Linked DNA regions of Homo sapiens: all the other regions are linked to region 3. The links come from fine-mapping of genetic effects on gene expression. A gene starts in region 3. Each other region holds a variant in brackets. All regions are shown on one strand. Distances are from middle to middle. Region 1 has its middle 7.4 kb from the start of METRNL. Region 2 overlaps QTGAL (queuosine-tRNA galactosyltransferase). Region 3 holds the start of QTGAL (queuosine-tRNA galactosyltransferase).

What was found. PIP is the estimated chance that this variant, and not a neighbour inherited with it, causes the effect.
Region 1: its variant is the best candidate, but not a certain one, in a credible set for the expression of QTGAL in whole blood (INTERVAL, PIP 0.60).
Region 2: its variant is the best candidate, but not a certain one, in a credible set for the expression of QTGAL in tibial nerve (GTEx, PIP 0.81).

What each region holds. Positions count from the first base shown.
Region 1 is chr17:83,067,157-83,077,190 of GRCh38, reverse strand. No RefSeq gene overlaps it. Among named protein-coding and RNA genes, the nearest start is that of METRNL, 7.4 kb to the left of the region's middle. RefSeq lists an enhancer at 6,999-7,551. The variant C/G (reference allele first, on the strand shown) is at 4,221.
Region 2 is chr17:82,944,607-82,954,640 of GRCh38, reverse strand. QTGAL (queuosine-tRNA galactosyltransferase) reads left to right here. Exons shown (of 13, transcript NM_001009905.3): 12 at 7,658-7,762. The coding sequence ends at 7,738. TBCD (tubulin folding cofactor D) reads right to left here. Exons shown (of 39, transcript NM_005993.5): 39 at 8,727-10,034. Among named protein-coding and RNA genes, the nearest start is that of QTGAL, 100 kb to the left of the region's middle. The variant T/C (reference allele first, on the strand shown) is at 6,095.
Region 3 is chr17:83,049,614-83,059,390 of GRCh38, reverse strand. QTGAL (queuosine-tRNA galactosyltransferase) reads left to right here and starts at 7,621. Exons shown (of 13, transcript NM_001009905.3): 1 at 7,621-7,654. The coding sequence starts at 7,640. It overlaps LOC124904094, which reads right to left and starts at 8,204. Exons shown (of 4, transcript XR_007065967.1): 1 at 8,146-8,204; 2 at 1-43.

The DNA of each region.
Region 1 (10,034 bases), 18 kb before region 3:
ATTGGGTGCTCCTGGGCACCTCTGCTGACCCCTGTCCTGGCCCAGCGAGGCCACCTACAGGTGAGACGTCCCCTGTAGACGGGGTTCCTGGTGTCAGGAGGTATCAGGCTCCTAGAGGATGCAGGCTGAGGTGGTCAAGGCTGTCTGGGGGTGTTCCCAGCCACTGGTACACTGCCCCTTGTACCACCAGACCCCGAGAGGCCGATTATGAACCAAAAGGATCCCAGCTGGTCATGGTGTGTGGCCCTCCCCCTGGTCCTCTGGGAGGGTCTGCAAGGAAAGGGCCTTGGGTGTGTTTGTCCCTGGATGTCTGGGAAGGGACTGCTTCCCAGTGAGCATGTCACGGGGTTAGACCCAGGAAGGGGCCACAGCATCATCCCACCCACCCACTCGTGGGAAGGAGCTGGTCTTCGCAGCTTTGCGTGAAGCTCTGATACTTCCTACCTGAGTCGGAACGTTGAGGCTGAGCCGTGGAATCGGAGAGCTCCAGAACCCACCAGGATCACGCCTGCCCATTCCCTCTACCGGCGGGCCCTGCAGTGATGCTTCTGCATCCTGGGAGATGGCAGCTAAGGGACCTGGGCCAGGGGGGCCTGTGGCCCAACCGTAGGTCTACATCAACCCTCTCTCTTTCCTCATCTATCCATTCCCTCGAGAAACAGCTCTCAGAAGCCTCCTGGGCAGACGTCCGTGAAAAAAATTCTGGGTGCACCCTGGACAGTCCTTCTGTGCCTCACCAGGGTCTGAGGCCTCAGAAAGCAGGACGTGGCCTCCCATGTCCGAGGACCACGACCCACTGTTAGGATCGAGTGACCTCGGCAGGGTCACCTCTGTGTATTTGACCCGGGAGTTTTTATCGCGTGCATTGCAGGGACCCAGCACCTGGGAATTTGCTGGGGTGGAGGGCTGTGGGACTGGACCCCTTTCTCGGCCTTTCCTATGCCGGGTGCCTACAGGCCCTGTGGGGTGGTGGACGGACCTGGCTCGGACGTCAGCCCCCAGCTCTGGGTCACAGACATGGTGGGGTTGGAGTCTGTTTCTGAGCCTCAGTTACCTGCAAAGTGGATCTGTTCTTGATTCCCAGGGCGTCGTAGGGTTTACGATGTCAGGATTCAACGCCACGTCCCCAGGTGGGGGCTGATTCTCACCTGTTCAAGGCACCACCGGGCTGTCATCAGGCCTTGGGGCCCTCATGGGGCTGGGTGGGGGGAACCCCTCCCGCCGTGCTCCCCACAGCTGCGAGTTCTCTGAGCCACTGGCACAACCCGGTGGACTTTACTGCTTTTATTTTTGGCCCAGTCTTGAGGTTTTCAAATGTGTGTTGACGGCCAATGTGCTGCCCAAGATGACCAGTCACCTGAATCCACTCACTAAAGAAACAGCTCCTCCCAGAGTAGCTGGATTCCTCCAGAAAAACATCACACGGTTTCCCCAAGCGCGTCCATGAAATTTTCTCTTTCAGCATTTGAAAAATACTGAAGAACGTCGCAGTCTGTCGTTCACGTGAGCACAGTTCATCCCACGGCCCCGCCCAACCACCACCTCCCAAGTCATTTGCCACCCGTTTCCCTCCCAGGCCATTTTCGCCAACCTTCTCGTAATTATCGTAATTGTGGTTGAATGATACATGGAGAGCCTGTGCTTGTAACTCAACTTCAATGAGCAACGTGTAATTACTACACGAAACAGCCACGGATGCCAGCCAGCCTCCACCTGATGACCTTCAGTGTGTCATTCTTCCCTAACCCCCTCCTTAACCTAATTTGCTGCCATGTGCTGCTCTCTGTGCGTCAGAGAAAAGTGGGAGTAGGGAGTTTCCTTGAGTCAGATACAAGTCCAGGCCGATGCTGGCCGGCTATGTGACCTTGGGTGGTGCTTGCCCCCAGGTTGGCCAGGTGGAGAGAGGCCACCAGCCGCCAGCTCGGCAGTGAGAGACAGTTCTGTGTGGCACGCTGGCCCCACACCGTCCTAGCAGTTGTTTGTAGCAGCTGTTCATGGCAGCATCTCACCCTCCGCCCGGCCATGAACCGACCATGGCCCCAGGGCTGGTGAGCTGTAGTGACTCTGCCATCTCGGGCACTCAGACCCCACAGGGAAGGAGGGTCCTCGGCCTCCGCGGGGTGGTGTCAGGAGGGGCCATCTACAGTACACGGTGGATTTGTACACAGAGGTGGACGTCTGCGTGGACCCTGACCACGGCCGGTCAGATGTGCTCAGGGGCAGGACCGTGAGCCCAGTGATGACGTGCTAAGGTCCGGCCGGCCGGCCACACACAGCAGGTCTGCGGTCACCCAGGACGTCAGCCGAGGGCCTCAGCCCACTCGTTCTGGAGGACGCTCACGGCAGAAACGCCTCGGAAGGAGCCGGTATCCCCACGGCCTGCGGGGAGAGGGAGTGTCCCATATGCCAACTACCGAAGGCCTGAAACTCACAAACGTTGAAGGCCAGTGTGCAGGGCACCCACGCATCCCCCGGCTGCGGCCGAGGGCTGTTCCTCTGTTTTGGCATTTCCCCTGAGCCACGTGGGAGCTGCAGAGGTTGTGACCCTTTGGCCCTAATCATGGGAGCAGGAGTCACCCCTCAACGGGGACAACGTATGGTGCCATCCAGCGCCGTCGGCACACCCAGCTTGCCGTGTGGAGACGGTGCCCCTCCATAGAGTAAATGCACGCCGCCTTGTTCCCCGTGGGCCCCACACTTGACTGCTCATCACCGGGCTGGGCCCCCTCTGACAGGCTGGGCAGGGCACAGGGTGGTCCCTCCCAGGGTTCACTGGTTGGCATCAGAGACCAGAGCCCCGCTCCGTGGCCCTCCTGGCAGCCCGCCCCACTGGCATCTGAATTCTGGAAGGCACCTCTCCCAGGGCCACCTTGGCCACCCTCTAGAATAAACAGAAAGAGGGGGCTCTGCTGCCTGGGGCTCCTCGTGGGCTCAGATCGGTCGGCGTGTCTCACTGAACAGTTTGGGCTCCTTTTTTCTTGCAAGTTTATAATCGAAACGAAGAGCTTTTTTTCTCTGCTTCTGTGGCCTTTGGTTTCATGCTACAGGAAGGCATCTCCCAGACCCCAGTGGGGCCTGCCGACAGCGGAGGCACGTGGGGGTGTGCGAGGGGCTGTGCCCTGTTCTTGCTGTGCCCCTCTGCCCCTGGCACCACCCCGAAGGAGGCAAGGCCTTGTCAACATCTGTTAAGCCGGGAACCGGGGACCGCCCAGGGTCAGATGGGCTGGAGTAGCCACACTGCAGGAAGCTGAGGGCAGACAGAGCTCTCTCCTCCCATACCCCACTGGGCTGGGTGTCCCGGGGAGGGTGGACGTCCAGATGCTGGGGCACCTAACCTGGACCGGGCTGGGCAGCTGCCCAGCGCGTGGGGAAGGGCGGGACCGTGGTCGGCGCAGTCACCACCAGGACCTGCCCCGCCGGGCGGGGTTCTGCCTCCTCCTCCAGTCCACAGGGCGAGTCTCCACGGACAGCCCCAGGGACAGGCCCTCCCCACATCGACGCTGCGCCTGGATGACTCAGCCCAGGCAGGCGGGGGTGGCGGTAGACACCCTCACCAGGAGCCTGTCCAGTGGGGCCCTCCCATGCAGGTAATTAGCCCGGCTGTCCTGCCCCTGAAAAGAGGCCGGGTAGCCCAGAGCTGCCCCCAGCTGGAGGGGCTGAGAGCTCTGGCTGTGGAGCGTGCGTGGGATGCGGGGGCGCTGGAGGCACAGGGCAGCTGTCTCACATGTCCGTCCCTTTCTGCCCACGCTGAGATAGTGAAGAAGGCCTTGACAGCCATTTGGACAGACGGTCCCACCCAGAACGAGGAGAAGCAGGCGACACCCAGCTCAGCGGACAGTGGGCAGGCACACTGGCAGGCAGGGTCAGGGGATCTGTCTCCCGAGTCACCTGTGTGCCAAGACACCCCACTGCGTCCCCAGGCTCCAGGGTTTGGGGAAGGGTGTCGGTGGGGCTGGGCGTGCAGGGAGCGTCCGGGGGCCAGGTCACGTGGACTTGGCCGATCTTGGAGAGAGAACTGGACCCCCACAGTGTCGAGTAGATAGGGGCCCAGCGGGGTGGGGCCCGAGCAAGTGAAGGCGGGGGTGGGGCAGGGCCTGGGTGTGCCTCCCCAAATCCAGCCAAGCTGGAGTGCACAGGGTCACCCAGGGATGCTGGCTTCACGCTCTTCCTCCAGCCATGCCTGCCTGGACTCGGCGGAGGAAACACTCCCTCCAGAAGCC[C/G]CTCCAGGCAGGCAGGAGCGAGGCCAGCTGGTGGGCTTTCTCCTCGGGAGTGGAGGGGTCCCTCCCGTCCACACGGCAGGTGCTGAGCACCCTACCCCAACCCTGCCTGCTGCAACGTGCGGGCCCAGCCTTGGCGCCAGCTGTCCCAACAGGGACCTGAGGACCCATGTGCCTTCTCCTGGAGAGGTGGCCAGGCCTGTGCCGGGGCTCCACTCTACTCCCAGTGGTGCCAGGAGGTCCCTGCAGCCCCAATGCCAGAGCTGTGCCTCCGCTGAAGCTTGCGGAAGTGAGACGGCCCAGAGGGACCCGCTGTCCAGACCCAGGATGGTGGACTGTGCGTCCTGGGCCTCAGTTCAGGCTCATGAAAGATGACTGAGCCCCCTCCGCCCCCGCCCCACACCCTCCAGCCCCCACACCCCACCATGCCCCGCACCGCACCAGCTCCCCGCATAGATGCTCCTCCTTGTCAGCCTGGGCCAGAGCCAGACAGGACCCACAGAGGCAGGGACCCCTCCCCAAATCCTAGCTGGCAGTTTCAGTCTTTAAGCACTGTCTGGGGGGTTGTCAGTGTTGGTGGGGTGCACTCCTGTAGGGCTGCCTGGAAGAGGTGACCTACATGCGTGCACAACTGTTCAAGCAAGGGTGAGGAAAAGGAGCAGCTGGCACTGTGCACTGTGTGGGGGTGCAAGGAGACCCAACCCAGCAGGAGTCAGGGCAGGAGGCTGGGGGCAGCCTGACCCCACGTGGAAGAGCTTGGGGTCATGAGGCTGCTGTCACCAGGCTCACAAGGGACTCCAGTGAGAGAGTAAAGCGATGAGGTCACGTGAACTGAAGAAACAAAACCACAGATCTTTATATGCAGTGTGGCAACAGTGACAGGAGCCAGGGGAAGTCTCCCCTCGACTCCACGGTGGAATTTTAATCGTCCCCAATTTTTCTACAATGACTAGGTATTGCTATTATGATGAGAAAACAAATTATTTAAAAAGGAAAAAAAAGAAAAAAGGAAGGAGGAAGGGAGGGAGGAAAGATGGAGGGAAGAAGAGAGGGAAGGAGACAGAGAGAGAGATTGTTATGAATGATGGGGGGGGACACAGTTTACCCAGAAAACAACTGCAGCCTCATGGGGCCTCTCAGGGGGCCAGGCCCAGGGCGTGGCTGATAGGGAGGTGGGCCGAGGGGCACTGGGAGCCCATGCTGGGCTTAGTGAGGTGGTGCAGGTTGGCTCGAGGAGTGCCCACTGCTAAACTGCGTGACTTGGTGGCGATCAACCCTCCAGCTCCCCATCTGAGAGCGACTTCATGGTGCCAACCCCACAGAGTCGTGGGCAGGTTCATGGCCCAGCTCAGTGGGAGGGAAGCTCCAGCTTCCTATGTACTTTGGAGCATGGGCCTCCCATTCCGGCCTCCCCACTCCCTGCCTCGACCTCAGCAGCCCTGTCCCCGTCCCCTCACAGCAGTGGCTGCAGCCACCAGGATCTGCCCCTTCCTCACCACCCTCTGGCTCTGTTCTACCCTCCGGAGCATGAAGGGCCGTGGGGCGCCTGGTGTCTGCGTCCTGTCCAGAACATGTTGGTGGACAGCACCTTCCCCCCCAGCCCTCCTGACTCTGAGAAGCCTCCTGCCTGCCAGCCTTTTGCGTGTCACAGAGAAAACAAGGTGAAGAAGATGATTATTTGAGTCTAGAGAGCTAATTAAAATGTTTAAAAACATACTTTTTAAGTACAAAAGTGAATATGCTTATTGACAAAGTCTGTTGTTCGGGGTTTCTGAGAGAAAAAAGAAAAGAGGGATTTCCCCTTTGACTTCCTGGCCCTGTCCAAGGGCTGGTACAGGCTCCCTGAGACTCCCTGGGCGTCGTGTGTGCACGTGTGTATGTGCATGCGTGCTCGAGTGTGCATTGTGTGTGTGCGCTCATGTGTATGTGTGCATGCCTGTGTGCACGTGTGCGTGTGCTCGAGTGTGCATTGTGAGCGTGTGCGTGCTCATGTGTATGTGTGCATGCCTGTGTGCACGTGTGTGCGCTCGAGTGTGCATTGTGTGTGTGTGCTCATGTGTATGTGTGCATGCCTCTGAGCATGTGTGCATGTGTGTAGAGCCCTGCATGGGATTTGGCCCACAGTGGTTCCATTTTGACTCTAATTTCCAGCAAAAACTCTGCAGAGCTCTGGTCAGCAGCCGCGACTCTGGCGCCAGTGCCTGTGGGGCAGGATCTGGATTTCAAACTCAATTTCAAAAAACAAACCATAGCTGAGTCCACTACAAGGCAACAGGAAAATAATGAGTGGCAGAGTGGGGGCTGGGGGGCATGACTTTATTTTTCGTGGTCCAGTGGTCGCCTGGGCGATGCCGGCCTTGGAGGGCGCGGAGGAGAAAGGCCTAAGAGTGTGTTGATGTCAACAGGAAGCGCTTTTGTGGGCGTCTTTGGGCATCGTCTGTTCTCACTGCTTTCAAGTCCAGTGAGGGGCAGGCAGAGCGGCTGCCAGCTCCCTGAGTGACCAGCATCTGAATGTCCCCAGGCTGCTTGCTGGGCCACCTCCCAGCCCTGCCCACCCCGTGGTCCCCTCCTGACCCTTTCTAGGTGTCTCAGGCCCCCAAGGCCCCACAGCCTCCCCCCCTGCGAATGAGGAGTCATCAGCACAGCTCAGCAGGGACCCTGAGAGGCCAGAGGCCAAGCCGCCGCTCAAAGTGGAGGTCAGGCCCGCGCTGACCGGCTGGGCTGGGGGGAGCCGTCCCTGTCCCGTCCACTCCCCGCGCCCCGTCCGCCAGAAGCCTCCGCAGTGGGGCAGTCCCAGCCCGTGCCCCTGACCACAGCCCTGAGGCAGACTGTCCCGGCCACCTTTGGGCCCAGCACGCTCCCTCCCAGCCCTGCACACACGGGGGCTGTGAGCTTGTGCACCAGCAAAGGCTGTCATGCAGCAGTGGGGACCCGGAAGGATCAGGGCTGGAGCGTCCTCACGGGAGGCATCCCACGTGGCTCACCTCGGCACTGGGTGTCTGCCTCTCACATCCTGCGGCTCCCACCACATGGGCCCCGTCCACTTCAGGGTAGACCCCTCCTGGCAGGTTCTGTGCCCACAGCCTGACAACTACAGGGGCAACTACAGCCCCTGACCCTCCTTCCCTGGCTTGGAAGAGGGATGAGAAGCCGCTGGACAAAGGGGCATGACAGGCATATGTGAGCGTGTATGAGCGTGTGGGAGCATGTGGAAGCATGTGGGAGCATGTATGAGCATGTGGGAGCATGTGTGTGCATGTGGGAGCATGTATGAGCGTGTGGGAGCGTGTGTGCGCATGTGGGAGCGTGTGGGAGCATGTGGAAGTGTGTGGGAGCATGTGGAAGCGTGTGGGAGACCCAGCAGGTTGGGGAAGGACTGGCCCTTGTCCCAGCTCTGGCACCCATGTTAGCTTTTGGTGAGGGACACAGTTTCTAGCACCTTCTGAGAAAGGACCTGTTTGAGAACAGCCAGACCCTGCCAGCCCCCACCCGGCCCAGCCCGGCTCTCAGAGAGGATGGGGTGGGACCCCATGTTCAGCGCTGGCCACCTTCGGGCTGCTCCGACAGCATGGGGTGGTGGGCACAGAGCCCTGCCCGTGGGGGTTGACACCTGACCCAGTCACCCTCGTCATGGGGCTGACGACGGCACCCATCCCGGGCACCCCTAGGAGCACAGGGGTCAGGCCTGTGTGCGGACCTGCCAAGTTCTCTGGGTTTCATTTTGTCCCCACCCCGCTGCATTCTCTCTACTTGTGCACACGTGATTTCCACAAATGATAAGCAGCCTCAACCATTTCCTGAAAAATTGGGGTTTTAGGTGAACCTCGGGGATGTTTTTCTACTGAAAAAGGTGAAATTAGGGAGATGCCTCCTCTAGGTCCGGAGGGGGACTCTGGCAGGGCGGCCGCCAGCCCTGCCTCTTGGGGTCACCGCGGGAAGGTGCTGGGTCCTGCTGTCCTCACATGCAGATGCGATTTCCACCACGGCAGCCCCCACGGCTGGGCTTACTGGGCCCGCGTGCCATGGGGGGAGCACCCGAGTTCCAACCTGCAACCCCCACGGATCCCACCCTGGGAGGACACCCCCATTGTCGCCCCCGCTGTCGCCTCCCGGGACCCCCGCTGCCGCCCCCCGCTGTCGCCTCCCGGGACCCCCATTGTCGCCCCCGCTGTCGCCTCCCGGGACCCCCGTTGTCGCCCCCCGCTGTCGCCTCCCGGGACCCCCATTGTCGCCCCCCGCTGTCGCCTCCCGGGACCCCCATTGTCGCCCCCCGCTGTCGCCTCCCGGGACCCCCGCTGCCGCCCCCGCTGTCGCCTCCCGGGACCCCCGCTGTCGCCCCCGCTGTCGCCTCCCGGGACCCCCGTTGTCACCGCCGCTGTCGCCTCCCGGGACCCCCGTTGTCACCCCCGCTGTCGCCTCCCGGGACCCCCGTTGCCGCCCCCGCTGTCGCCTCCCGGGACCCCCGTTGTCACCGCCGCTGTCGCCTCCCGGGACCCCCGTTGTCACCCCCGCTGTCGCCTCCCGGGACCCCCGTTGCCGCCCCCGCTGTCGCCTCCCGGGACCCCCGTTGTCACCGCCGCTGTCGCCTCCCGGGACCCCCGTTGTCACCGCCGCTGTCGCCTCCCGGGACCCCCGTTGCCGCCCCCGCTGTCGCCTCCCGGGACCCCCGTTGTCACCGCCGCTGTCGCCTCCCGGGACCCCCGTTGTCACCCCCGCTGTCGCCTCCCGGGACCCCCGCTGCCGCCCCCGCTGTCGCCTCCCGGGACCCCCGCTGCCGCCCCCCGCTGTCGCCTCCCGGGACCCCCGCTGTCGCCCCCGCTGTCGCCTCCTGCAGGTGGGATTTCGGGAGGTTCTTGGGTCATTCTCATCCCCGTGGAGGCTCAGGCTTCATTCCTTTAGCGAAACCTCATGTGTTTCCCGCACTTCCAAAAACGTCCAGCTGGAAGCCCTGAACTTCAGAAAGCAAAAGCAACTGAGTTTTCCCTGCACAGCCTGTGGCTCTCCCGGCCGGAAAGCACTTGTGTCACCCAAATGCCTGGGTCCTGGGCTGACCGTCCTAGTCTTTTGGAATCTAAGCTGAGCTGACTTAACCTAAATCCCTCCTTCCCAGAAGGGCTAAAGTGATCCTTTTCGTAGCTCCGCTAAGAGGCCTTTATCTGTGGCCCGGCTCATCCCAGAGGGGACGGGAGGGGTTGAGGTGAATGCCTGCAGGGTAACAAGATAAAGCACAGTGTAAGATGAGTGTGACACAAGGGGACAGGTCAGGCCCGGTCAGTGTGACACGAGGGGACAGGTCAGGCCCGGTCAGTGTTGCCACAGGGGCCACGAGGGGGGGCTTCAGGTGGGTTCCCCAGGACCCCCAGGACTCCGCACCTAGGCCAGAGCTCCGGACGGCCAGCAAAGCCAGCGAGACCTGATGCCTCAGGGCCTGCAGTGTCCAGTGCATGGAAATGGCCTTGGGAGGAGAGGCGGGTCCCGAGAGAACCCCAGGCTCTCCCCCAGGCGCAGGCACCCACACCACCTGGGCAGGCGAGGCCGAGCCTCCCCCCGCAGTTCCTCAGGACCTTCCTCTTGCCAACAGGAGCCCAGCGTGGAATCCCGCAAAGGAAACAGACAATGGGTCCGTGTCCACACCATGGCCACCAGAGCGCAGGTGTCACCTCCCCTTGAAACCCACAGCTGGTATCTTCACCATCGCCTCCTTCACAGGCAGAAAACAGACGCGGAGAGGCCAGCTCTCTCCCGGAGGCCGCGCGGCAGACAGGGGGCCGGATCCTACCCAGCGGGTCTCTCGGGTCCCTAGGGGGTAGTCCCCAG
Region 2 (10,034 bases), 100 kb after region 3:
AAATTTAAAGTAGTTTTTTCTGGTTCTGTGAATAAAGTCAATGGCAGCTTGATGGGAATGGGATTGAATCTATAAATTATTTTATGGCCATTTTCATGATATTGATTCTTCCTATCCACGGGCATGGAATTTTTTTTTTCCATTTGTTTGTGTCCTACTTCCCTGAGCAGTGGTTTATAGTTTTTCTTGAAGAGGTCCTTCACATCCCCTATAAGTTGTATTCCTAGGTATTTTATTTTCTTTGTAGCAATTGTGAGAGTTCACTCATGGTTTCAGTCTCTGCTTGTCTATTATTGGTGTATAGGAATGCTCGTGATTTTTGCACATCGATTTTGTATCCTGAGACTTTGCTGAAGTTGCTTATCAGCTTAAGGAGTTTTTGGGCTGAGACAATGGGGTTTTCTAAATATACAATCATGTCATCTGCAAACAGAGACAATTTGACTTCCTCTCTTCATATCTGAATACTCTTTATTTCTTTCTCTTGCCTGATTGCCCTGGCCAGAACTTCCAATACTATGTTGAATAGGAGTGGTGAGAGGCCATCCTTGTCTTGTGCCAGTTTTCAAAGGGAATGCTTCTAGCTTTTGCCCATTCAGTATGATACTGGCTATGGGTTTGTCATAAATAGCTATTATTTTGAGATACGTTCCATCAATACCTAGTGTATTGGGAGTTTTTAGCACTAAGGGTGTTGAATTTTATTGAAGGCCTTTTCTGCATCTGTTGAGATAATCATGTGGTCTTCGTCTTTGGTTCTGTTTATGTGATGGATTATGTTTATTGATTTGCGTATATTGAACCAGCCTTGCATCCCAGGGATGAAGCTGACTTGATCATGGTGGATAAGCTTTTTGATGTGCTGCTGGATTCAGTTTGCCAGTATTTTATTGATGATTTTCACATCAGTGTTCATCAGGGGTATTGGCCTGAAATTTTTTTTGTTGTGTCTCTGCCAGGTTTTGGAATCAGGATGATGCTGGCCTCATGAGTTAGTAGTCCCTTTTTTTCTATTGTTTGGAAGTTTCAGAATGAATGGTACCAGCTCCTCTTTGTACCTCTGGTAGAATTCGGCTGTGAATCCATCTGGTCCTGAGCTTTTCTTGGTTGGTAGGGTATTAATTACTGCCTCAATTTCAGAACTTGTTATTGGTCTTTTCAGGGATTCGACTTCTTCCTGGTTTAGTCTTGGGAGGGTGTATGTGTCCAGGAATTTATCCATTTCGTCTAGATTTTCTAGTTTATTTGCATAGAGGTGTTTATAGTATTCTCTGATGGTAGCTTGTATCTCTGTGGGATCAGTGGTGACAGCCCCTTTATCTTTTTTTATTGTGTCTACTTGATTCTTCTTTTCTTTGCCTGGCTAGTGGTCTATTTTGTTAATCTTTTCAAAAAACCAGTCATTGATTTTTTTGAAGGGATTTTTGTGTCTCTATCTCCTTCAGTTCTGCTCTGATCTTGCTTGTCTTTTGCTAGCTTTTGAATTTGTTTGCTCTTGCTTCTCTAGTTCTTTTAATTGTGATGTCAGGGTGTCGATTTTAGATCTTTCCTGCTTTCTGATGTGGGCATTTAGCACTATAAATTTCCCTCTTAACACTGCTTTAGCTGTGTCCCAGGGATTCTGGTACGTTGTCTCTCTGTTCTCATTGGTTTCAAAGAACTTCGTTATTTCTGCCTTAATTTTGTTATTTACCCAGTAGTCATTCAGGAGCAGGTTGTTCAGTTTCCATGTAGTTCTGCGATTTTGGGTTTCTTAATCCTGAGTTCTAATTCGATTGCACTGTGTTCTGAAAGACTGTTAGGATTTCTGTTCTTTTGCATTTGCTGAGGAGTGTTTCACTTCCAATTATGTGGTTAATTTTAGAGTAAGTGCTGTGTGGTGCTGAGAAGAATGTATATTCTGTTGATTTAGGGTGGAGAGTTCTGTAGATGTCTATTAGGTCCGCTTGGTCCAGAGCTGCGTTCAAGTCCTGAATATCCTTGTTAATTTTCTGTCTCAAATATTGACAGTGGGGTGTTAAAGTCTCCCATTATTATTGTGTGGTTGCCTAAGTCTCTCTGTAGGTCTCTAAGAACTTGTTTTATGAATCTGGGTGCTCCTGTATTAGGTGTGTGTATATTTAGGATAGTTAGCTCTTCTTGTTGCATTGATCCCTTTACCATTAGGTAATGCCCTTTTTTGTCTTTTTTAATCTTCATTGGTTTAAAGTCTGTTTTATCAGAGACTAGGATTGCAACCCCTGCTTTTTTTGCTTTGCATTTTCTTGGTAAATAACCACGGGTGAGTGGTTGATAGAGTGAGCCAGGCCCCAAGCGGTACTGTTGGGGGGTTGTGGGGGACACACAGACATGGGCACCTGTGACAGCTAGAAGCACGCCACACCAGGGCGGGTCACGGTTCCTGCCCCGCAGAAGCCGTGAGGCCAGCGTGTGTTGGTCTACACTGCCCGGCCTGTGATGAGCTGTCACACAACTAATCCAAGTCAAGTCCAGGCAGAACAACGTGAGCAGAGCCTCTTGGGCACAGCTTTCTGGCAACTACTGGCGCACCTCATTTTATTGCACTTCATTGTGCATTTTATAAATTACAGGCGTGTGGCAGCCCCACGAGAGCAACCCCATCAGTGCCCCTCTTCCAGCAGCACGCCCACTCCACGTCTCCACGTCTCCCCATCTCCACGTGTTAATTCTCGCAATATGTCAAACTGTTACTGTATGTGTTACGGTGACCTGTGGTGTCACTACTATCTCGGGGCGCCCATATGAATCAGTGAACTTGATTGATAAAATGCGAATGTTCTGACAGCAGCTGTCGCCTCCCCGCTCCCCCCCACCCCACCCCTCCTCAGGCCTCCCTATTCCCTGAGGCACAACATTGAAATTAGGTTAACTAATAACCCCACAGTGGACTCTAAGTGTTCAAGTGAAAGGAAGAGTCGCACGTCTCTCGCTTTAAATCAAAAGCTAGAAATGTTTAAGCTTAGTGAGGAAGGCATGTCGAAAGCCACGACTGGCAGGAGAGGCCCAGCTTTCAGCCTAACGGTTAGCCAAGTTGTGAATGCAAAGGAAAAGTTATTGAAGGAAATTAAAAGTGGTCCTCCAGTGAACACACAAATGATAGTGCGGATAGGGAGAAAGTGTTAGTGGTCTGACAGATCAAACCAGCCACAACATTCCCTTAAGCCAAAGCCTAATACAGAGCGAGGTCCCAACTCTCTTCAATTCTGTGAAGGCTGAATGATGTGAGGAAGCTGTGAACATAAGTTTGAAGCTAGCAGAGGTTGGCCCACAAGGCTTAAGGAAAGAAGCCGTCTCCGTAATATGAGTGTGAGGTGAGGCAGCAGGCTCTCCAGAAGATCATGCTACGGTCACAATGGAGGTGGCCGCACTCAACCACAGATCTTCAGTGTAGAGGAAGCAACCTTGAACTGGAAGAAGACACCATGCAGGCCTTTCATAGGTAGGGAGAAGTCAATGCCTGGCTTCAGAGCTTCAAAAGACAGTCTGACTCTTTGCCGTGACTTTAAAACCCATCTATGCCTAGTGTTCCATTATTGGAACGCTAAGCATGTGCAAGTTTATATTCTGCTTAAGGTCACTGCCAAGATCTGATTGCAAAAATTCGAAAAATTGCAACCTCAGCCATAAATGGGTTAAGTTGAAGGCAGTGGTCGCCATTCTGAGAATCCTAGGATTCTTAGGAATGAGGCTAAATCTGCTCTGCCTGTGGCTCTAGAAATGGAACGGCAAGGCCCAGGTGGCAGCACATCTGTGCACAGCACGGTTGATGGAATAGTGTAAGCCCACCGTTAGGCCCAGTGCTCAGAAAAGGAGATTCCTTTCAAAATACGACTGCTCATTGACGGTGCACCTGGTCACCCAGGAGCTCTGAGGCTGATGTACGAGGGGTTCGTGTTTTTGTGCTGACACAGCATCCGTTCTGCAGACCGTGGGTCCAGGAGTCATTCCAACTTTCCAGTCTTATTGGAGAAAGACGTTTTCTAAGGCCGTAGCCGCCAAAGATAGTGATTGCTCTGATGGATCTGAGCAAAGTAATGAAAACCTTTGAATAACCGTTGTCCAAGTTACCGGGGACATTTAGGTGAGTAAACGGGAGGCTCCGAGAAGCAGTTATAAAATGCAAATTCTACACGAATCTGGTTTAGTTTTTCAGAAACAGCCTCTTCAGGATCTACTTCTCAGGGACCCCCTCTCCAACCCCGTCAGTGCCGCTCTTCCAGCAGCATGCCCACTCCACGTCTCCTTGTGGTAATTCTCGCAATATGTCAAACTGTTATCGTATGTGTTATGGTGACCTGTGGTGTCACTACTATCTTGGGGCACTCATATGAACCCCAAGGCACTTGGTGAAAACCCTTCCCAGGGAGCCGGCTGAGCATGGGAAAAGAGGTTCCTCCTTGTCCTGCACACGCTGTGTCCTTGGAGGGCCCAGAGCCCCCACGGTCACCTGTCTCTTGCTTGTTCTTCCAGGGGCAGCTGGCAGTGTGGCCTCACAGCACATGCTTGTTCCATCTCTTGCTCTTTTCACGTGTGTAGATTGGAGGTTATTCCGTGTGAAGCCGCTGGAGCCCCCGGGCTCTACTGTTGCTGTGACTTTTCTATTCAGGGAAATTTCCAGCTTATTTGAGCCATATTAGCAAAGTGACAGGAAACCAGCCCTATGTACCCATCCCTGGAGCAAGCGTGTCCATCTTATGTGTCCTCCACACCTCCAAATCCCCACGCTGGTGTTGTGGCACTCATTCTAGCCTAATTTCATCCATTATTATTTCCCTATCTCAAGGAGATAAAAACTGTTAAAAGGACCATAAAACCACCATCCCACCACAGAATTCCAAATATCCCATCGATGTTCAAATCTTCCTAATTGCCTTATAAATTGCTTCATGTTTTAAGTTTGCTTGCTGGAACCCGGCAGCGTCCGTGTGACCTTTACGACATGACCTTTCTGTCTCCCTGACGCCGACGCTCTTTTCTTAGTTCAGCTGAAGAATGGGCTTGTGTATCCTGCACTCTGCCGACCGGTTCCCTGTGGTTTTGCGTGTTCTGCTCCATCCTTTTGAGAGGTGGTCAGACCGAGGCCGCATCAGGCTCCCCTGCAATTCCGTTTGGCGGGAGCAGCTTGCGGGTCTCAGGGCACCTCGGTGGCACTGTTGTTGTGCCTTCCTCCACCGTTAGCTGGAAGAGTAAAGAGAAACCCAAGGTTCACGTTTGTCACTAAAACACCCGCTCTTCGATTATATGGATGTTTCATGCATTTGTGATACAGTTACTTACTGATGTACCTTTTGGCCATTTTTAATCATCTGCTGTTTAAAATGCTGCTGCAGTATTTGTATATATACATAATTTCGCTCAAGTGGCTCTGTGTGGAATAAATTCTAAAAATTTCTGGGTCAAAGAGCACACACATTCAATCCCAGTCTGGCTGTTCACCACCCGCAGCTGCTGTGCCAACCCAACCCACCAGCGATGGAGCACCTGCCTCGTGCCCTTAAAGGGAGGGAAAGCATCTTCTCACATATTTATAAACTGCTTTATTTCCCCTTCAGTAAATTATTATTTTCATTAGCCCATTTTTCTATTGGTCAGTATTTTTCATAAGGAAAACTCTCCGACATGCTGCAAATTTTCCTGCCATTTGATATTTTTGTATTTTTGCCATTGTGATATAATCAAATTAAGTGACTTTCATTTATGGAGTCTGATTCATTCTAAGACAATCACTCCTGGTTGTGAAATTTAAAAAACAACATTGTCCCATTTTGCTTCTGGGATTTCTAGTTTTTAATTACATCTTTGATACAACTGGAATTTCTTTTGATTACAGATGCCAATTTTTCTATTTGGATAATTGTCCCAACATCGTTTACATCACTGCTTTTCCAGGAACGAAATGCCGTCTATGTTGGTTGTGAACGTGCATTTGGCACCTGGCAGGGCCAACCCTCATGGCGTGTGCGTGAACACATCCCTAAACCATAGTCTAATTTATCCTATTTTTGTAGTTCATGTGAGCAGAATCCAGTGTCTGTGTTCTCGCATCTGGTTTTCACTCCACGTGTTTGGGGTG[T/C]GTGCGTATCGCTGTGCATGGTGTGGACTTTCTCCACGTCCCGTGTGCAAACGCCACCCCACCCAGAGGCCACGCCAGGACCCAGGCCTGTGGGCAGTGGTTCCCGGTTTGCCCTTGCAAGGACGCTGTGTCCTCCTGCGTGAGCATCCCTGCCTCGGGTCTAATCCTGGGAGTGGAAGGCAGGTCGTGGGTGTGGCTGCATCCTCAGCTTCTCTGGATGATGCCCAGGAACATGCCCAGAGCCAGAGGGCCCAGCTGCTCGGCTCCCTCACACTGGGCTGGGCACTTGGTCGCCAGCCGTTTGGGGAGTGTGTTCTCATGGTGGTTTCAGGTGTGAGTCTGACCAACAACCCCCCGTGCCCGCTGGACACTGGAGTTCCTTCCTCTCTGGCGGTGTTTCTCATCAGGGTTCCCCACCGGCCTACTGCACGCTGCGTCTCTCCTGACCTGTAGGAGTCCCCTACACCTCTGGCTGCTCGACTTTGTTGGTTTAATGTTTTGCAAATGTCTTCCTCCATTTTGTGGTTTGCCTTTTCATTCTCCTAATGGAACATGTTGCTTTACAGAAGCATCTAGTTTTAACAGAGTCTTGTTTAAGACGGTGTCAACACGCACTGGGCTGGCCTGGTCCCTGAACTCAGGTGTGTTTCCTTTGCAAACTCTAGAGCAGAGAGACAAGGGAGGAAGGACAGATAGCGGCAGAGTGTGTGGAAATGTTTTCCAGGAAGGATGGCTTTGAGTGACAGCATCATTTGAGTGACAGCAGTGGTAGGTGGTGTAATGGATTCTGATGTGGTGGGGGTAAGGGGCGCAGCCAAGCTCCGATTCCTCCTGCTGGGCCCAAGGACCAAGGACTGTGACAGGAATGCATAGTCCCTCCTCTGTCCTGCCAGAGGCCAGAGACTTGTGTCCACCACTCTGCCGGGCTGTCTTCAGGAACTTGTTCAGGAGGTGCTGGGGTGCAGGGCACGTCTGAAAGGCATTTCTGGACACCTGCTGTGGCCTCATACAGGAGAGTAGGTGACCTGGCCAAGGCCAGCACACAGGACAAGATTAAGCATCCAGGGACCCGGGGTCACAGCCCTCACTCCATTGCAGGGGTGGGGATGACAGAGGCCAGAGGAGATCAGACAGGGGCAGCTGTTGATGGTTCTGAGATGCAGTTTCTGTCTGAGGGGCCTCCTCCCACTCCTGGCCTGTGCAGAGGGGTGGGTGTGTGGAGGGAAGGTGGGTCTGCCCTGGTCAAACAGCAGAGGCATTGCCTGTTAGTCTCATTCCATTCCGAGTGCCCCCAGGGAGAGTCAGCCACCTTATGTAGAGAGGCAAGGCCAGAAGGCAGGGGGGGCCTCCCCTCTGGTGACCAACAGGGCCTGTGGTACAAGCAGTGCCGGCTGCTGCCCTCTCTGGCCTTTGTCTCCTTCCAGCCTCTCCGCTATTAGCAGAGGAGCAGAACACTTGACAGGTGGACACAGGCCACCCCCAACCCCTGGCCCTGGAGGAGGCTCCACAGTGGCCTCCTAGAGCCAGGAGACCGGACTGAGCTGAATCTGCTGCTCCTGACAGGACCTCACAGGGGGCGCCTTTGAGGACAACCTGAGGTCACTGCACTTGCAGGAGGGCCAGGACTTCCTTCACTTCAGCTGACGGACCCATGGCAGCTGCTCCCAGGTGGGTCTTTTCACCGAAGAACCATCTGGGTTTGTTTCTTTATTATGTTTCATTTCCTTTTCATTCTGCTCTTATTCTAATTTTCTTTACAGTTAGTCCTCTGCTTATGTTCAGCTCATTAATTTCCAGCCTTTCTTCTGTAATGTATAATTCACGACTTCAGAATCGCTTAAGCACCACTTTAGGTGAACTCTATCTGTTTTGATTAACTTTTATCTTTCATTATATATTTTATAATTTTCATTATTTCTTTTAAAGAGATGTTTTTAAAAACATTTTTAAAATTTCTGTGTACACACACACACACACTTGGGTTCTGTAACTGTCCATTGGGTCAAGTTTTTCTCCTTCAACCGTGCCTTATGACACTTTATTGAAATGTACCAATTCAATAAAATACACTATGGTAGTAGGTGATCAATTTCTTCTTGAATGTTTGCTTTAGTATCTTCTAAGACTGTGTTACAAATGTAGGAAAGTTCTATCAATCATCTTCCTGTTGAACTGAGCCTTTAATCATCATATAGTAATCTATTCCTAATAACACTATTTGCCTTCCTTTAACTGGAGAACTTTGTCATTAACAGAGGTTTTAATCCATTCACATTTATTGTGTCCCAAAATATTTATTTCTAATTGTGTGTGTGTTTTGCAGCTTGTTCTGCCTTTTCCTCTTGCCATTCTTGCATATTTTGATAGTGTATTTTTTATTCTTGTTCCATTTCTCTCCTACTAGTATAGAAGTTATCTTCCCCATACATTAACTGTTTGTGTGTGACTAAATACTTCAACATGCACCTAGCCAAGCTGATAACTGAATTATCTGCACTCTGTTCCAGGAGAACATAGACTTAAGATGCTCTAAATTCAGCCACCAACTCTGCCACTGATTTATATGCTGCTGTTGTCCATTTTAAGCAATTCTACGTGCTTTAAAAAAAAATCCACATATAAGCCATCTTTCTATGTTTTTATGGTCACAGTTTATTGCTTCCCTTGCTCCACATTCCTCCAACTATCCAACTGCGATCATTTCCCTCCTGCCTAAAGTTTATCCACTAAAGCAGTGGTTCTCAACCAGGGGCACCCCCAGAAGATATTTGGCAGTGTCTGGAGACATTTTTTTTTCTTTTTGTCACAGCTGGGTAGGGGGATGCTGCTTCCATCTGGGATGTTGCTGAACACCCTGCAATAAACAGGACAGCTCTCAAAACAAATGACTCAACCCCAAATATTAAGCCAAGATTAAAAAACCAAACAGATAAGAATGGCATATTTTTATCTAAATGACTTAATTTTGTTCTCTTCTTTAATGTTATGCTGTGGGCACAATTCAAGCAACTTGACAGCTATTTTCTCTCAGCATAATGAAGACCTTGGTCTACTCACTGCTCAACTCCAGTGCTGCTGCTGGGAAATTGGTAGTCGTTTATATCACTCTGTCCTTCTTACAGTTCTGCAGTTTCACTGTGGCAGGTCTAAATGTGAGACTGTTAGGCTTCTGTATCTGGGGACTGTTGCATGTCAGTATGGAATATCTGCATCATTTCATTTCATTCTGAGACCCCAATTACCCAAAGGTTAGACATTCTTCAATGTCTCTTGATGTTGCTGTCATATCTTCCAGTTCTCTGGATAATGTTTTCAGATCTTCCAGTTTTCTAATTCTCTCTTCAGCTGTGTCTAAGCTATCCATTGAGCTTTTCATTTCACTTCTTACATTTCTAGGGGCTCTGTTTTTTTCTAATCTCTTCTTGATCATTTCTAGCCCTTTTCAAAAATGTACTCATATTATAGCCTACATTCTACCAGAGAGGTTTTGTATTTGCATCTTCTGCCCTTGTCTGGGAATACCACTGGTCAGGGCCAAGTCAATCAAATTTTCCACTTTAGGAGTTTTGGGGATCATACAGGTAGTATTAATTCAGGCCACTTCAGGGGAGATAGATTGAGATAAGAGTCTTGCTGCTGTTCCTTTGAAAAAGACTTATTTAGGGTCCCAGCTTTATATAGTGGTCCATTAGATCTGGCCCTGGGCCTTAAATTCTCTCATCCATTCTGCTATCAAAATAGCGTGACTAGATTCCAGGGCTCAGCAGAAACCCTCAGGATCTCCAAGGTCTCTGCTCTCACATGGAGGGTTTCTGGTTAGCACCTAGAACGTGTTTGTGGGTACACAAATCCCACATCAGCTCCCCGGTCCCAGGGATACTGGCTTCTTGCTGCTCTCTAAACTCACAAAGCTTGCTCCACTTCTGGGACCACAAGCATT
Region 3 (9,777 bases):
TGGGGGCTGGGGGTGCCTGGGCCAAATCCGCCAGAACCGGGACCTAAGAGTTCAGAGGGCATCAGAAAAACGCAAAGACCCACTGGCACCCCAGAAAAACGCAAAGACCCACTGGCACCCCAGAAAAATGCAAAGACCCACTGGCACCAGGCAGGTCATACTCCATGAATTTGTACATTCAGGCTTTTGGTACCCAAAGTTGGTGTTTCCATGGCGACAGGGCCCGAATGGCCATTGAACTCTCCTCTAGCCTGCAAGAGCCAGTGTGGGTCTCAGGCAGCTGACAGCCTCTGGAGGGTGCATGGACGGGCTGAGCGGGGGCATCTTCCTTGCTGGGCACAGCACAGGTGACCAGGCCGGGGTGCAGCTGCACGGCCGCACTGACCACTGAGCAGGTTCTGAAGGGCCGTCTACGTATGCGCTGGGGACAGGACCCTCCCCCATTAATGGTGCCCCGGCAGCCTGCTGTGAGCCCCGCCTTCCACAGCCACATCAGACTCACATGGTCCTCTTTGGGTCACCAGGGACTTTGGGCTGAGTCCTGCACCTTTAGGAGCTGAATAACCCCATTTGTTCTCAGGACCTGGCCCGGGTTCCCCTGCCCCAGCCTCTCCGGCCCCTCTCATGCCCCATGTGGGCTCTTCGCTCTCCCTGTGTAGACCACACCCACCACCCCACATTAGAGCCACGGACTCATCTTTCCCTCCAGACTACGGCAGGCACCACAGCGAGAAATGCGCTTTCTATCACGGTCCAGCACACACTGGCATAGAACGTGCAAAACCAACACAAGCTTTACAAATCAATGCAGCTCTTACTATATGGGACAGACTCACACTTCATCTTTAGGAATTGCCAGTCAGAGCCCAGTGTACTGACCCCATGACCCCTGGTATACTGGCCACAACCTGCAATTTGAAAACTACCCTAGGCCCTGGCACTGAGCCCTTCCCAGAGTGGATGCCCAGGAACGCTTGCGGATTCCATCCAGTCACGGGGACGGCTGGGCTGCCAGCTCCTTCGGTGATCCACGTCAACACCACCCTTGCCTCCCTGGCAACTTGGCGGGCCAGGTGCACGCGGCGGCTTCTCAGTCCAGCGTTCATGTCTGTGCACTGACCGTGTGAAGCCGCGGCACCGAGCACCCCTCAGTCAGCAGTGCAATGTGGGGAGCGCTGGTGCGGCTCCCCAGGCCGGCCAGGTGTCTCGCCTGCATCAGCCGACTTGACTCCACTTTGCCATGAGGAATGGATGCCTCTGTGGACACCAGGGCTGGCATGCCAAGGCCACTTGGCCAGGACGTGGCAGAGCTGAGGGCAGGTCCCGGTGTGGCCCCTGGACTGGCTTCACGCACTGTCCAGATGTGGCTTCTCCCACAGGCTGGCATCACACCTGCTTCTCGGCAGCTGTCTTCCACGTGCGCTGCAGGGCCAGCTGGGGAGGACATCTGAGGGAGGCCGAGGCAGAGCGGGGGCGGCTCCACCTTCGACAGTGACATCAGGGGCACCACAGGGCCCTCACAAGGTCTCATGCAAGACGCAGAGGTGCCCTGGAATGTCCTGCTTCCCATTTATCCTCAGCATTCACTCAGGCACCAGTCGAGCCCAGCCCTTTCTCCCACGTGTGAAAAATGTTATGTTATCTCATGGGAGTGAGTTCCATAAATCACGCTTGGAACCCCCATGAGACGTCTTCCGCCCCTGTTTAGGAGGAGAGTGTCTAATTGAACACGGAACGTTGTTCAGCACAGGCCTTTCCCGTCCACGTCAGCTGCTAACAACACAGGTGCCCCTGCATTGAGCATAACTGGGGCCGCACCCACTCGGCGTCCGCAGGCACCTGCCATCCACTGTAGATTTCCCCAAGACTTGGAGAGCTGTGGGCTTAGGTCACCTCCAAATCCACCTTGAGTGCTGAGTGTGCAGGAGGGCAGCTCCGGCTTGCGGGGCCGTCCCCTGGAGGTGAGGCTGCTGTCTCATTGTGCATCTCCTCCTCCTGCCAACCTGAGAGCTGGCTCCTCTGAGTCAGCCTGTCCCACCCTCCGGGTCCTAACTCCAATTCCTGCAGGGTGGCCTCTGCAGTGAGAAGAGCCTCAGGCCTCGGGACACCTGTGGGATCCTGCAGTCACCACCCCAGGGCCAGGACAGCAGAAGCCCCGAGGCGCAGCTCCAGCTGACAACAAGCAGGGGCTCCTCACTGCTCGGATGGAGAATTCTCCAGGCTTGTGGAGGTCCAGGGTCCAGCCCTCGATGTGGACCCTCAGCAGAGCACGCTGGTCCTGGCCCCCTCCCCGCTCCTTCCTGGCCCCTGCCCCAGCCTCCTGGGCGTGAAACGCTCCATGTGCAAGCCCCTGACTCCGGCTCTGCGTTCTGGGCTCAGGCGGGACGGGGGAATCCAAGACAAACATGGTCCCTAGTACTTGATGCTCACCTAGAATCCACAGCGAGCATCTGCCCGGCTGATGACGGAACGGTTCTGGTGACAGGAACCTCCCCCTTCCTGTAGGCCCAGGGAAGGAGGGCAGGCTGTGGCTCCAGGTCAGTCATGTGGCACTGGGCTTTAACGAGGTAATATTTGCTTGGAAGTTTGGAGACGCTCCGTCAGTCGGATCTCCTTCTCTTTCCAGAAGGCCTGACGGTGCAGGTGGGTGGAGCCAACACTGACTGCGTGCTGACTTGGGCAAGGCGCTGGGTAGGGCTTGGTCCCTCCAAGGGGCCACATGAGGCCGTCCCTTCCCTCTGACGTGTAATAGAATTTCACGGATCTGCAGAACGCCGTCACCTCAACTTCTCTGTCCAGGCTCTGCAATTCACAGGCTTGACTTTCCTTTCGTAGGATCAGCCCGTACCCCCCGGAGCTCCAGGCCGGTACCCCCACCCCTGGCTCAGAATTATCCTCCTGAATTGACTCTGGGTTTCCCTGTGCAACTAGAATCCTACAATCCCCAACAGGTCTGAATCCCAGGAATGTGGGCGGCTGAAAAATGGAACTCGAGGGACCACATCCGCACTTAAGTCTACTGTCCTGAAGACTTTTTCATTTATTTTTTTGTAGATTACTTTTTTAAAAAGCATGGGCTGCAACTCCTTAATAAGTCATTAAATCCACATGGTGAGTCACAGCCTTTAAATAGCTGAGACAGAGTAGGAGAGATGACCTCAGTGCACACATCGCCGAACAGCCAGGCTGCCCTCACGGGCTGCTTTATTATGGGGGTGCTATGGTCACCACGTGCAGAGTCTCCTACAGTCTCGAGCGACCCTGCCCTCCAGGCAGCACCCACTGCCTAGGGGAGGTCGAACCAGGTCTGTTGAGGTTCATCCCCTCTGGAGACTTGGACACACGAAGGTCTAGGGGATCAGGCTGTTGAAGGAACCTGTTGGGCTCTTGTCTTTAAAGCTTGAACTCAGCCCTCACTAGCTGCACTCACATCAGAATCATTCTTACTGGGGACCCAGTGTCCCCCAAGTCTAACACCGTCCGTGCGGACCTGCAGGGAACCTCTGTCTCCCCACCCAGCACCGAGTCTAACACCATCTGTGCGGACCTGCAGGGAACCTCTGTCTCCCCACCCAGCACTGAGTCTAACACCGTCCGTGCGGACCTGCAGGGAACCTCTGTCTCCCCACCCAGCACCGAGTCTAACACCGTCCGTGCGGACCTGCAGGGAACCTCCCCACCCAGCACCGAGTCTAACACTGTCTGTGGGGACCTGCAGGGAACCTCTGTCTCCCCACCCAGCACCGAGTCTAACACCGTCCGTGCGGACCTGCAGGGAACCTCCCCACCCAGCACCGAGTCTAACACTGTCTGTGGGGACCTGCAGGGAACCTGTCTCCCCACCCAGCACCGAGTCTAACACCGTCCGTGCGGACCTGCAGGGAACCTCCCCACCCAGCACCGAGTTTAACACCGTCCGTGCGGACCTGCAGGGAACCTCCCCACCCAGCACCCAGTCTAACACCGTCCGTGCGGACCTGCAGGGAACCTCTGTCAACCCACCCAGCACCGAGTCTAACACCGTCCGTGCGGACCTGCAGGGAACCTCCCCACCCAGCACCGAGTCTAACACCGTCCGTGCGGACCTGCTGGGAACCTCCCCACCCAGCACCGAGTCTAACACTGTCCGTGGGGACCTGCAGGGAACCTCTGTCTCCCCACCCAGCACCGAGTCTAACACCGTCCGTGCGGACCTGCAGGGAACCTCTGTCTCCCCACCCAGCACCGAGTCTAACACCGTCCGTGCGGACCTGCAGGGAACCTCTGTCTCCCCACCCAGCACCGAGTCTAACACCGTCCGTGCGGACCTGCAGGGAACCTCTGTCTCCCCACCCAGCACTGAGTCTAACACTGTCTGTGGGGACCTGCAGGGAACCTCTGTCTCCCCACCCAGCACTGAAGGCTGCTGAGAAGTTCTTCGATTTGGAGACCTGATGTCTTGGTCCATTTGTGCTGCTGTAACAAAATACCTCTGACCATGTGATTGATAAACAGTAGAAATGTATTGCACACAGTTGTAGAGGCTGAGAAGTCCAGGATCCAGGCGCCAGCAGACTTGGTGTTTGGTGACAGCCTGTTCCCCAGAGATGGTACCTTCTATGTGTCCTCACGTGGAGGAAGGGACAGAAGGGCTCCTTCAAGTCTCGTTGAAGGGCACTCGTCCGTCATGAGAGGACAGCCCTCACGGCCCAGTCACCTCCTTAAAGCTCCATCTCCTAACCACATCGCCTTGGGGGTTAGGTGTCAACATATGGTTTGGGGGGACACACACATTGAGACCACAGCACCTACTCCAGGCCCCTGGCAACTGGTACTGAGTCCTCTGAATATAGCCAGTATTCGCCAAAACCTTTTGCACAAACAACAATTAAAAATAAAGAAAACTGGCTATCTGCAATGGCTCTCACTTGTAATCCCAGCAGTTTGGGAGGCCAAGAGCTCGAGACCAGTCTGGGCAACAGCAAGACCCCATCTCTACAAAAATAAAATAAAATAAATAAATACAACTGCCCACTCAGTGAACCCAAAGCTGTGGGGCGTTTTGTGTCACTTCCTCTGCTGGTGCCCACGTGACGTCAATCATCTTTCATCAGCACCTCACTTCCCTCTGAACGAAGACCACACGATCTCCACCCGGCCAGCTCTGAGGCCCCAGGTCCTCCTTCCTGTCTCTCTCCAGGGTACAGTGTCAGTGCCTTCTGTCCGGGCCCTCTGCTGACCTCTCCCCGAGGATCTTCCTACTGCGAGGGCAGTGATCTCAGGCCCCACCACCCTTGGATTTCAGGACCCCACCTCTGCAACCCTGCATTTCTGAAACGCACCTTGGCACTTTGAATGTTCCCAAAAAGGAGATTCTAATCAAATTTGAATTAGGGGGAAGTCAGTGAAAAGCAAATTTCTGGCACCAGGAAATGTACAGGAAGGAAGGTGAGAGGCAAGCCCAGTTCTGGACACCATGTGCTGTGGAGGGGCAGAAGCCATCTGTGACCCCTGACCTCTGGCCCTTACCACCTACCTTATCATGAGCCTACGGCGCATTCTGGCAGCTACAGGGCTACTTTTTACTGAGTCCTTTACAATGAAATGATTCCTAGTACCCCAACCTCTGGAGAACATGAAGTCCCTGGAAGCAAATTCTCAGATAGCTTTTGCTGAACGGTAAATAAGGCTGCATTTTCACTCATGTGACTTAAGCAGTCCACTTGTAAAACAGGCTTTGCAAACAAGGAGGCAATTTAAGGGAAAAAAAACCATCTATGAAGTGATGCTTAACAGAAGTTTGGCTTTGTTGTAACGGTTAATTGACAGAATGATTTGCATTTAATCTTAGTTTTGGACAGCCAAGGATTTGTCCAGGAAGGGCTGCTTACAGCCATGCTCATTAATTGTGAATTACTCATTACTTCAGATCAGCTGGAACAAATCCCAAGCGGGCTTAATCTCTGTGTGCAGGCAGCCCAGGGCTAATGGCAGCAGTCCTTTTTATTGACCCCCACGGCCCTGTCCCCAGTCAACCTCCTCCAAGCAGGGAGTTTCCAGAGGCCTCACAGCCGCCTGGGAGACCCCTCATGGCAGGCTGCTCCCTTGACAAGTTCAGAACTGCTGGGGTTCCCGGCCGCGCGTTCAGGACTCAAATCTGGAGATATCCGCTCTGTGCTCCTCAAGTATAAGGTTAGATAGGGATGGGGCCTGGCCTGTGTTCCTGGCAGGGAAGGCCACCTCTGAGCTCCCCCAGAGCCCGGCCGCCTTCTCCGGGTTCCCAGCCCTGCAGTTCCCAAGGCTGCATGCGGAGGCGGAAATGAGGGCAAAGGTGGAGGGTACCCGGAGCTACTGAGGTCATGTCTTTCCCCAGGCACCCCTTCTCCTGGGGGACCTCACGGTGGGGTCAGGGCCTCACTCCCGGGCACCCCTCCTCCTGGAGGACCTCACGGTGGGGTCAGGGCCTCACTCCCGGGCACCCCTCCTCCTGGGGGACCTCGCGGTGGGGTCAGGGCCTCACTCCCGGGCACCCCTCCTCCTGGGGGACCTCCTGGTGGGGTCAGGGTCTCACTCCTGGGCACCCCTCCTCCTGGGGGACCTCGCGGTGGGGTCAGGGCCTCACTCCCGGGCACCCCTCCTCCTGGGGGACCTCCTGGTGGGGTCAGGGCCTCACTCCTGGGCACCCCTCCTCCTGGGGGACCTCGCGGTGGGGTCAGGGCCTCACTCCCGGGCACCCCTCCTCCTGGGGGACCTCCTGGTGGGGTCAGGGTCTCACTCCTGGGCACCCCTCCTTCTGGGGGACCTCACGGTGGGGTGAGGGCCTCACTCCTGGGCACCCCTCCTCCTGGAGGACCTCCTGGTGGGGTCAGGGCCTCACTCCTGGGCACCCCTCCTCCTGGGGGACCTCGCGGTGGGGTCAGGGCCTCACTCCCGGGTACCCCTCCTCCTAGGGGAGCTAACCCCGGGCACCCCTCCTCCTGGGGGGACATCTCAGTGGGGTCAAGGCCTCAGGCCTGGGCACTTCTCCTGGGGGACCTCGCCCCGGGCACCCTTCCTCCTGGATGACACCCCGGTGGGGTCAGGGCCTCACCCCTCTCCTGGGGCCGTCAAGTGTCCTGCACGCCCTGCTCTCCCTACCGCGTCTGTCTGAAAGGACGCCCTGCAGTCCCCTCGTCCTCCCCGGTCAAGTAGCACAGCCCACAGCCCGGGTGAAATGCAACGACCTTTTACATATCAGCCTTGCTTGAGGCTTTACAGCAACTCCAGGCCGCCTGGCTTGGGTTTGCAGCGCGGCGCCCTCGCACAGCCCCGCCTTCCCCGCGGCGGCGTCTACGGGGGACCAGAGATTGTGACGCGCGCCCTAGGGGAGAGCAGGAGGCTTCCACGGGCCAAGGAGGCGGCTCCGAGAGGTGACCCGGGACCGGGGCGTGGCCCAGGGCGGAAGACTGAGGCGGCGACCTCCCGGCCCCGCCCCGCGCCGAGCAGCCCCGCCCCTTCCACGCCCCTCCGGGAGGCCCACCCCTATGGACGCCGCTCTGCACCAATCGGAGATTGCCTGGCCTCAGACCCGCCTCCTGGTGCCGCCCGCGCAGGCGCCGTAGGCCGAAGCGGCGGGATGAGCGGAGCCGGCGTGGGCGGGGCGTCCGAGGAGAGCCAGGCCATGCAGGCCCACGTGGTAGGTGCCAGCGGGGAGGGTGCCCCGCCGTGCAGGCTGGGTCCTCGCGTCCCCTCACCCCGCCCTCCAGTCCTCTCTCGCTCCGGGGTTCGCAGCCCCGCACCGCCTCTCGGGCTCACCTACGGGGTCTCCGCCCTGAGCAGCCCTTAGGCCCCGCGGGCGAGCGCGGCTGCGCGTGCGGGGGACGCTCGGGATTGGAGCCCGCGGGGCGCGGCCGAGATCTGCAGCTCCGGCTGCGCTTCCTGCCCCCGTCCCGCGAGCGTGGCCTCCTCACCGACCTTCCTCGTTCTGATTTTGAAGCTTCCGGGCTCGGAGCTCAGGCAGTTCCCCGTTCGCCCTCACCTGGTCGTGGGGTGGAGGAACGGCGCACCTGCCTCATCCCCGCCCGCCTGCCCCGCGCTCCTTCCCCGCGCCCGCACACCTGCCTCGCTCCCGCCTCGCTCCTGCGCACCTGCCCCGCCCCCGCGCACCTGCCCCCGCACCTCACACACCTGGTCCGCGCACCTGCGCATCTGCCTCGCTCTTACGCACCTGCCTTGCCCCTGCACGCCTGCCCTGCACACCTGCCCCGCCCCCGCACACCTGCCCCACACCCCACACACGTGCCCCGCGCTCCTGACTCGCCCCCGCGCACCTGCCGCGCGCACCTGCCTCGCTCCCGCACCCCACACACCTGGTCTGCACACCTCCCCGTGCCCCACACCTGCCTGCACACCTGTCCGTGTGCCCCCACACAACCTCGCACCCCACACGTCTGCCGTCACACATTCCCGGCACACTTGCCCATGCCCCACACACACGTCTTGTGCCTGCACACCTGCTTCACACACCTGCTCTGCGTCCTGCATACATGCCCGTGCCCCATACCTGCCCGTGCACCTGCCGTGCACACCTGCCTGCGCATCCCACACACCTACCTGCACACCTCCTCCGTGCCCACACACCTGCCTGTGTGCCCAGCACACTTACCCCAAACACGTGCCCTAAAAACCTGCCCTTAAGCCCCGAACACCTTCCCCGTGCTCCGGCAGAGGCTGGAGCAAAGGCCCTCAGGGTTCAGACCCAGCCAATAGGCCGATGCAGGGAACAACCACAGGGATGTAGGATTAGCAGTCGCCCAAAGGCTCAGCATGTTTTCTGTTTTTTGTTTTTTTGTTTGTTTTTTTTCCAGCCTTTTTTCTTTTTTATTCCAGTCTTACTAAAATTGGTAACAGGTGAATCAAGGTCTATCTTTGATAGAAACATTATATTTTGTAGATCTTGAGAAAAATTATTTCCTTCTTTTCCTCTAAGTAAATCCAAACTAAGGTAAATTTGTAAATAAATTAGGGAACTCGTTTTATTTTTTTTTTAATTTTTATTTTTTGAAATGGAGTTTCACACTCGTTGCCCAGGCTGGAGTACAATGGCGCGAGCTCGGCTCACCGCAACCTCTGCCTCCCGGGTTCAAGCGTTTCTCCTGCCTCAGCCTCCCGAGTAGCTGGGATTACAGGCATGCACCACCACACCAGGGTAATTTTGTATTTTTAGTAGGGACGGGGTTTCTCCATGTTGGTCAGGCTGGTCTTGAACTCCCGACATCAGATGATCTGCCCGCCTCGGCCTCCCAAACTGCTGTGATTACAGGCGTGAGCTACCGCGCCCGGCCAGAACTCGTTTTATTCTTATTAACCTAAGTCCAGGAAGAGACAGAGTGAGGTTTCATTTGTAAAGAACTTGACTAAATTGTGTTTTCAACACAATTTCAACTTTTCTTTTTTGGATATAAATTAAGGGTGAGGACAGACTAATCTCTTAAGTATCGCTCCGTATCACTTAATATTATAATGTATGAAATTAAGACTTAACTCCTGTAATCAGTTGTTTTGTTGGCATTGAATTTCCTGGTTTTACTCCATCCCACTTTATAAATTTTTGTTTTGGGCTTCATGAGAAAAGGACAATGAGAAAAGGACACTAGCTACACTAGCCCGAAACGAAGTGTAGGACAAAGGAATCGAGAGATGGACGTCAGGCCTCCCATTTGCTCAGCTGGGTTCTTTGAACACCTCCTGCCCGATACTTTGTTAAAACATTGTTTTTTGTGGGCTGAGGGGTTACTTAAAGGGGTTACTTTGTTGCAG